2 linked regions of the Homo sapiens genome follow. The protein of the gene in region 1 purifies or fractionates together with the protein of each later gene. This does not show direct contact. Each region holds a gene or a part of one and is shown on either strand. Other genes may lie near its edges. The genes, in order: MACC1 and FCHO2.

Evidence for each region.
Region 2: the proteins of MACC1 (region 1) and FCHO2 purify together in Homo sapiens (affinity purification with mass spectrometry; one large-scale study listed by BioGRID and IntAct). This does not show direct contact.

What each region holds. Positions count from the first base shown.
Region 1 is NC_000007.14:20,151,316-20,155,142, forward strand, and holds part of MACC1 (metastasis-associated in colon cancer protein 1), read right to left. Parts: intron 3,067-3,827; coding exon 2,878-3,066; intron 2,217-2,877; exon of another isoform or gene 1,949-2,216; intron 1-1,948. UniProt on the Homo sapiens protein: Acts as a transcription activator for MET and as a key regulator of HGF-MET signaling. Promotes cell motility, proliferation and hepatocyte growth factor (HGF)-dependent scattering in vitro and tumor growth and metastasis in vivo.
Region 2 is NC_000005.10:72,987,007-72,990,833, reverse strand, and holds part of FCHO2 (F-BAR domain only protein 2), read right to left. Parts: intron 1,408-3,827; coding exon 1,333-1,407; intron 357-1,332; coding exon 215-356; intron 123-214; coding exon 1-122. UniProt on the Homo sapiens protein: Functions in an early step of clathrin-mediated endocytosis. Has both a membrane binding/bending activity and the ability to recruit proteins essential to the formation of functional clathrin-coated pits.

The sequences.
Region 1 (3,827 bases):
TTCTAATATGCTATTGATTCCTTTTTTAAAAAATTAAAACTCTAAATATATTCAGAAAATGCCAATAAATTTTCACTAACTTTCACGGAAGAACCTTGGCAATAGTGACATCTTTGTATAGTGTAAGTGCATTTTTTCTGAAAGAAATACTCTGAAAAACATACTTTGCTTATTATCAGATTCCAAGCTTTACAGCTTTGCTTTTATGTAGTAATTACCATGTCATTAGAAAAGTCGAGTAACATTTCTTAAAATTTAACTTGAGGAGATGGTTAATTTCAAAAGTGACATTCTCAAAAGTTTCCAAAGAGAGGCTTTTTCTTCACCTTAGAAAAAATTAAGAAATGGTTAAGGTGTTCAGAAAATCTGACAAATTTATTATTAATATACTTCATTTTTTAACCAGCTTGAGGCTTGGTAAAGATTTAATTTTGAGGCAATTTTTGATAGTATCATGGCTACTTGACATGGCCTGAAAAGAGGACAAATAAAAAATGAAACAAGTTGCTTAACCCTGGCCGCACCTTCTGACTCTGCAACATAGTCACCATATTAAACAGTGATGGACAGAGTGTAATGGTTAAAGTCATGGACTCTGAAGTCAAATGTCTGTGCTCTAAACATGGTTCCAGGACTTTCCAGCTGTGTATGTTTAAGCAAGTTACTTATCCTCTCCATATCTTAGATATTAGTGTCTGCCCCATGAGTTTTTATTGAAAGGATTACATTAATTAATTTTTGTAATATTTCCAGAACAGTGTCTGTCACGGAGTCAGTGCCAGATAACTCTCCCTAAGATACAATAAAAATAGAACAAAGGGAAGAGAAAGAAGTTAAAGGAGAGAAAGTAAGCGAAACAGCTCAACTGCAGGCATTGGCACACATAGAAGGCAGTTTTTGGAGTGTGTGCCCTCTGAGGAAATGACATACAGGAAAAAAAGCGGCCCAGCAACTGCTAGACCTAATTATCTCCCTGCCCCAGTGCACTTCCCTCCCTCTGCACCCCCTACCCAGAACTAATATCAGTGTGCTTTGAAATCAACTACTTGAATTGTAAATTGATCATATTTAGGAATCTCCTCCCAAAGAGAAAAATTATACAGCTATTTTTTAGGAGGTTGGAAATTAGCATATATTTACCCATTAGTTAAGTGACCTCGTACGTAAGATTTCTGTATATTATTTGGAATGACCTCAGGCCAATATACTGTGGATTTTTCTAAGTATTTAATAACATGAATCTGAGTGATGACTATTACTATTAATCACAATAAGTTGAACTATCATAGAAAGACACCTAGGGGCTTTCCTTTCTGCTTCTGAGTGTTTATCAGCCTCAGGCAAAGACTTAGTCATTTATGATTTGGGCTGTGCAAAAGTAAATAATGGAAAAGTGGGTGGTTTGCTGGCCTCCATCAAGATTTAGGGGAAGACAAACTATAAACAACCACAATTAGAGAGAAGCCAGATGCTTAAGGAGGCTGACAGAATAAATAACTCTGATAAATAACTCTCAACAAAACTCTTTCAAAACAGAACCTTATTAAGAAAAAAAGGTCCTGCTTTCAATTAGACAACTTTTTCATCAGTTAACTGAAATGTCCGAATCAGAAGAGCGTATCCCTCATAATATTTGTTTTTCCTTCTTAAAGGCTTCCTATCTTTCATCTCATTCTGTAAACACTTGAGTCCATTTTGTGTACTGCACCAAATGCTATATTATGCTTATTTATAGGCTGTAATGCCCTTCTAAGTTTATGGAGATAAATGTAGTCTCTGAGGGGAAAGACATCCTCAGTCCCTGGTTGCTCCTGGCTAAAGAGTCTTATTTTGGAGAAGTCCTGGCTGGAGAGCCAGGCTGCAGGAACTCAGAAACCAGCCTGCTGACACTTCCACTGCAGCTGCTGGAATTCAGCTGACTTGATTTGACTCTACTTTTCATGCAAAGGTGGTTTTGTCCTGTTCACCCAACTGGAATGGTTGCATCGAAGCAAGAAAATTTTCTCCAAAAATTAATACCCAGATCTACGCCAAAAACAAAGTGAAGAATACAGCTTCTGCTCTCACCAAGTCATCTCTAATAGAGAGAAGATTTCCTTAAACATAAATATCTTCAAAATGCTTGTTCATTTGAGAGAAAGATACAGAATATTTTACATGTGCCCTTCACTGGAATATTTTTATTTATTTAATTCAATAAAAATTGACTCCCAGTTCTTTATGGTAATCTGGAGAAAAATATGTGTTTAACTTGTGCCTAACAGCATACATTTGTTTTGATAAAAACAATATTTTCATGGTAAATATTTACTTTGTACTAAGTGCTAACATTCTGCAACTGATGCCTGTAGTTACTGTAGGCAACATTGTGAAGGAGATAATGAAGCTCTTAGTTATCAATCTCTCATCACCAGTGGCTCTACATCCACTTTCTTACTACTTCTTGTCCCTGAGCATTAGTTATCGCAAGTGACTAAGTTTATGCCTGAGGCCGATAAGTACATATCATTATGTCTTCCTCTATTGTCCTGACTTGATCCTGTCTCCCACCTTCAAAATTTACCTGTTTTATGACTCAAGTTCTTATAGCCATCCCCACTTACTGGCCCAATTTGATCAATTAATTCATTGATCAAAGGCCATGAGAATATGAAATCCAAAAGAAGAAACATCAATATTTTAAGGGCTCTCAATGCCTTTTAAGAGTGTGTGTGTTTATTTCAGATAGTACTGATGAGTTACTAGTGCAGTGATTCAGTTAGTGGATCATCTTGGACATTCCCCCAGTGAATCCGTGAATGTGGTATGGGTTTGATTACATTAGTGTTACTTGGTCTGCAACTTTTCACTATTGAATTACACAAACAGAAGTCTTACCTCAACAGCAACATCTCCAGTGTTTCCTCGATGAGGAATTTCATATGCCTCCATTTGTTGCTTTGTGAGTCGTACTAACTTTTCAGCTAGTTCCCTCCAGCCTTTTCCAAGCTTGACAGCTGAAGTCAGAACAGCAGCTTCTTGGATGAGACGTGCGACTAACTCTTGGCAATCCATTTTCAGAAGAGCCTGCAGCAACAATTACATGTCACAATTAAAAGCAACTAACTTGGGCTTTTCTCTCTATAAATTGGAATTTTTATTACATATTCTACAAATGGGAGTCCTTTTTTTTCACTACACGTATAATCGAGTTTTCTAAAGCTCAAGGAGTTGATTCACATTTAAGCAAATTCTATAAGCAAACTACAGTAGACATAACTAAGCCAGAGTTAGGGGAGATTTAGAACTAATTCAGTGGCTAATTATAGGACCTTGGATAAACCACTTAACTAATATGTGTCTTTGTATCTTTAATTGTGAAAAAAGGAAGTTAAATTACACACTTCCAATGGTACTCTGAAGTTCCGGCAGTCTCTAATTTATCACTCTAGGATTAGTTATTTACTCACAAGAAATAAAGCCTCGTTCTAGGAGAGGATTGGCTACAAGAATTTCTTTAAAGTGTATGTGAACTGGTGATGGTAAATATTATTCTATTTTCACCAAAATATGACTTAAAACATCCCAGAATCATGCCTGCTGTGTTTAAAAAAAAGAGACACTCCTTCAACTTTGAACAAAGCTATTGATGTTTATAAGTTTAAAATATATATATATAAATTTATTAAAAATACTCTCCCTCATCACCAATATAATGGTATTAAACATAAAGTACAAGGTATTAAAGACAAAACACCTAGTCTTCTACAATGCAAAATAGAAAACCATCAGGCTCTTACCTAACCATGCATGTTTCAAACAAGTCTACAAGTTTGTGTTTTGCCTTG
Region 2 (3,827 bases), on another chromosome or scaffold:
TTTTTCAAACGCTCCTGTTCTACACACTTGGCATTGTAATTTTCCTTGGATTTCTGGAGGGCCTGAGTTATGCTCTGAATGGTTTGGACAGCTTCCAGAGTTCCTGCAACTTCTTCTTTAGTCTGTTTAGTATGAAATGATCCATCAAAATGACTGAACTATAAAGTATTCAATATCTGACCAATCAATTATTTAACAAGAAAAAAACTGATACCTTTTTATGAGACTTTACTTGTTCTTCTCCATACTTCTGAACTTCCTTTATTAATTCTTGTAATTTTCTAACAAGATCCAAGTGACAATTTGCTAATTTCTCTGTAGATGTTTTGAATACATCCCATACTGGTGCAAATGTTCTAAGAAAATAAAAAATATGGGAATAACTTATTAAAAGTAAAAAAGAAAATTAAGGTTCTAACAAGGAACCAGTGGAAATAATAGTGGTATATATGGCAACTTTATTTAGGCAAAAGATGAAATTAAAATAATGAATAAAATGATTGACAGACTGACCTTGAATTTTTTTTGTCATTGGTTATTTAAAATATTTTTGGACCTCAGGAATATAGAAATGGGTTAATTACATTATCACAAGTCTTAACCCTCTTAATTATATTAATTTCTGAATTGATTTAGTATTTATACTTGTATCAGAAGCCTTTCTATCACTGTCTATTGTTAAAAATTAACTATTATCAAACTTCAATTTAAAACAAGTATTCCATTTAAAATACTTCATCAAAAATAAAGTTTCTGTGAATTTAAACATGCAAAAGCCCAATTTTTAGATAATTATTCTTTCCATAATTGTTATGGCAATGAGCACATCTCATTTTAAATGTATTCTTTTCATTATTTTCATTTTTCAAGGAACACATTTTTAATACAAATTTTTAAAAGGAAGATTTAATGACAGTCTATAAAATCACAGGAGACATTTTTAATGCATCTTAATCATTTCAATAAAGTTTATCTTAAGTGAGTTTTTAAAGATCACTGTTAAACTACAACAGAATTTAAATAGGAACTTACAGACAACTAGAATAAATACATTGCATGTGCATAAGATAACATTTATAATCTCAAACACTATTGAATGACTAGTTTTTAAAAAGGGAAAAAATAAATTTCATTTAGTTTTGACTGCATTGACTGATTCAGCAAGTTCAATTATATTTTCTATCAAGTGAAGAATATATTAATATTTACAGATACTTTTAAATAAGCATATATTTTACTATGCTTTTGAACTGTTATGTCCTCAAAAGGAACCTAGAATCCTTAAGAACTTTGCCTAAATAAACACTGAAAAAGAGGAAGAAATTAACTCACCCAAGTTGTGAATAATTGCTTGCAGATTTTGCTAGTTTTGTCATTGACCTGGAGTATGCCTCCTCTATGGTAGCTCTGTTAAATCAAATATCCACATCATAATACTTCTTATTTAGTGACCAAAAACAGCAAAGTTATCAAAATACAATTAAAAGTGCAAAACAAAAAGATACCTCAAAAATTACATGTTAAAAATAAGTACATATATGTAGTCATGAATTTCCGGCCTATCTTCAAATGTCCTTTCTGGTATAGAACTAAAATAATTTATATCACACACACAAATTTTTTTTTAAAACAGTCTTGCTCTGTCACCCAGGCTGGAGTACAGTGGTATGATCATAGCTCACTGCAGCTTTGACCTCCTAGGCTTAAGCAATCCTCCCACCTCAGCCTCCTGAGTAGCTCACACTACAAGCATGCCCCACAACACCCAGCTAAGTTTTGTATTTTTTTGTAGAGATGGGGCCTTGCTATGTTGCCCAGGCTAATCTGGAATTCCAGGGCTCAAGCAATCCTCCCACCTAGGCCTCCCAAAGTGCTGAGATCATAGGCATGAGCCACCACGCTCAGCCACAGAAAAAATTTTAATGGAATCACAACTCTTTTTATCTTTAGTACCAATGCTTATCTGAACAGGAAATACATGAGTGCTACTTCTTGTATTCTCTCTGTCTCTGTAAGCTGGTTCACTGTGATAAGTGTGTCATTTGTATTTAATAATTCTTTGTTGTACTTAGTTTTATTATTCTTCAACACTGTGATGCACATTTAATAGAACAAGAGATTAATGACAGTCATTTGCACAAAACTAAATATATCATCAAGTCTGAAATCCTGAACTTCATTCATGGCTTAATTTATTTTGTGATCAGATCTAAAATATTAGCAAATATTTCACACTAGAAAACTGTGTTTTATATAACTACTGTTTAGCATATGAGATTTTATTCCGTAAAAAACATCCACAGCCATTAAATATAGAATTCTAAAAGACACAAATTATCCTACAGACATGTAACCTATAAATACAGAATACACATTTTGTATGGCCTTCTTTTTTTGAGACGGAATATGGCTCTGTCACCCAGGCTGGAGTACAGTGGTGCAATCTTGGCTCACTGCAACCTCCGCCTCCCGGATTCAAGCGATTCTCCTGCCTCAGCCTCCCGAGTAGCTGGGACTACAGGCACCCGCCACCACACCCAGCTAATTTTTGTATTTTTAGTAGAGACAGGATTTCACCATATTGGTCAGGCTGGTCTCAAACTCCTGACCTTGTGATCCGCCCCACTCAGCCTCCCAAAGTGCTGGGATTACAGGCATGAGCCACTGCGCCCGGCCTGTTTGGCCTTCTTAACACTACAAAACTTATAGTTTTACCTTTTGCCTGGCTCTTCTCAATGTGTGCTACCCTTAATAGGGGAACATTCTACAACCACCATCATCCCTCCATTTACTTTGATTGGTCCAACCAACTTTCTGCTTCTAATGTCTAAATCCAGATCTTCACACTACTCTTGCACTGACCCACCTGTTCAATATCTAACTGCCCCAAACATAATTAAGATATGTGAACCACCTCAAACTCAGAATATCTAAACTAATCTCCAAACTCTTTCCCAACCAAATTTGCACAAAAACCAGCTCTCTAACAAAAAGGAAATATTAACAGTAACTGCCTCTCGCTGATAGTACTGTGACTCTTTCCTGCTCCTTTAAGTTCTTCTGTCATTTTAAAATACTATTACTACAAGAGTAATACTTTGTTCACCCAAAAAAGTTAATATTAGTATATCAATGTGTGAGTTTAACAGCAAGGTAAAGAAGTTCAATTTCCAGTACAGATTAAACATCCCTAATCAGCCAGGCACGGTGGCTCACGCCTGTAATCCCAGTACTTTGGGAGGCCGAGGCTGGCAGATCACCTGAGGTCAGGAGTTCAAGACCAGCCTGGCTAACATGGTGAAACCCCGTCTGTACTAAAAATACAAAAATTAGCTGAGCATGGTGGTGGGTGCCTGTAATCCCAGCTACTTGGAAGGCTGAGGCAGGAGAATCGCTTGAATCCGGGAGGCGGAGGCTGCAGTGAGCCAAGATCATGCCACCGCACTCCAGCCTGGGCAACAAGAGCGAAACTCTGTCTCAAATAAATAAATAAACAAACAAACATCCCTAATCAAAATATCAGAAATGCTCCAAAATCTATATATTTTTTGAGGACCAACATGATGCCAAAAGCAGAAAATTCCACACCTGACCTCATGACAGGTCATGGTCAAAATTCAGTCAAAACTTTGTTTCATGTAGAAAAATAGTTAAAATAGGCCGGGCACGGTGGCTCACGCCGGTAATCCCAGCACTTTGGGAGGCTGAGGCAGGTGGATCACGAGGTCAGGAGATCGAGACCATCCTGGCTAACACGGTGAAACCCCATCTCTACTAAAAATACAAAAAAATTAGCTGGGCTTGGTGACACACGCCTGTAATCCCAG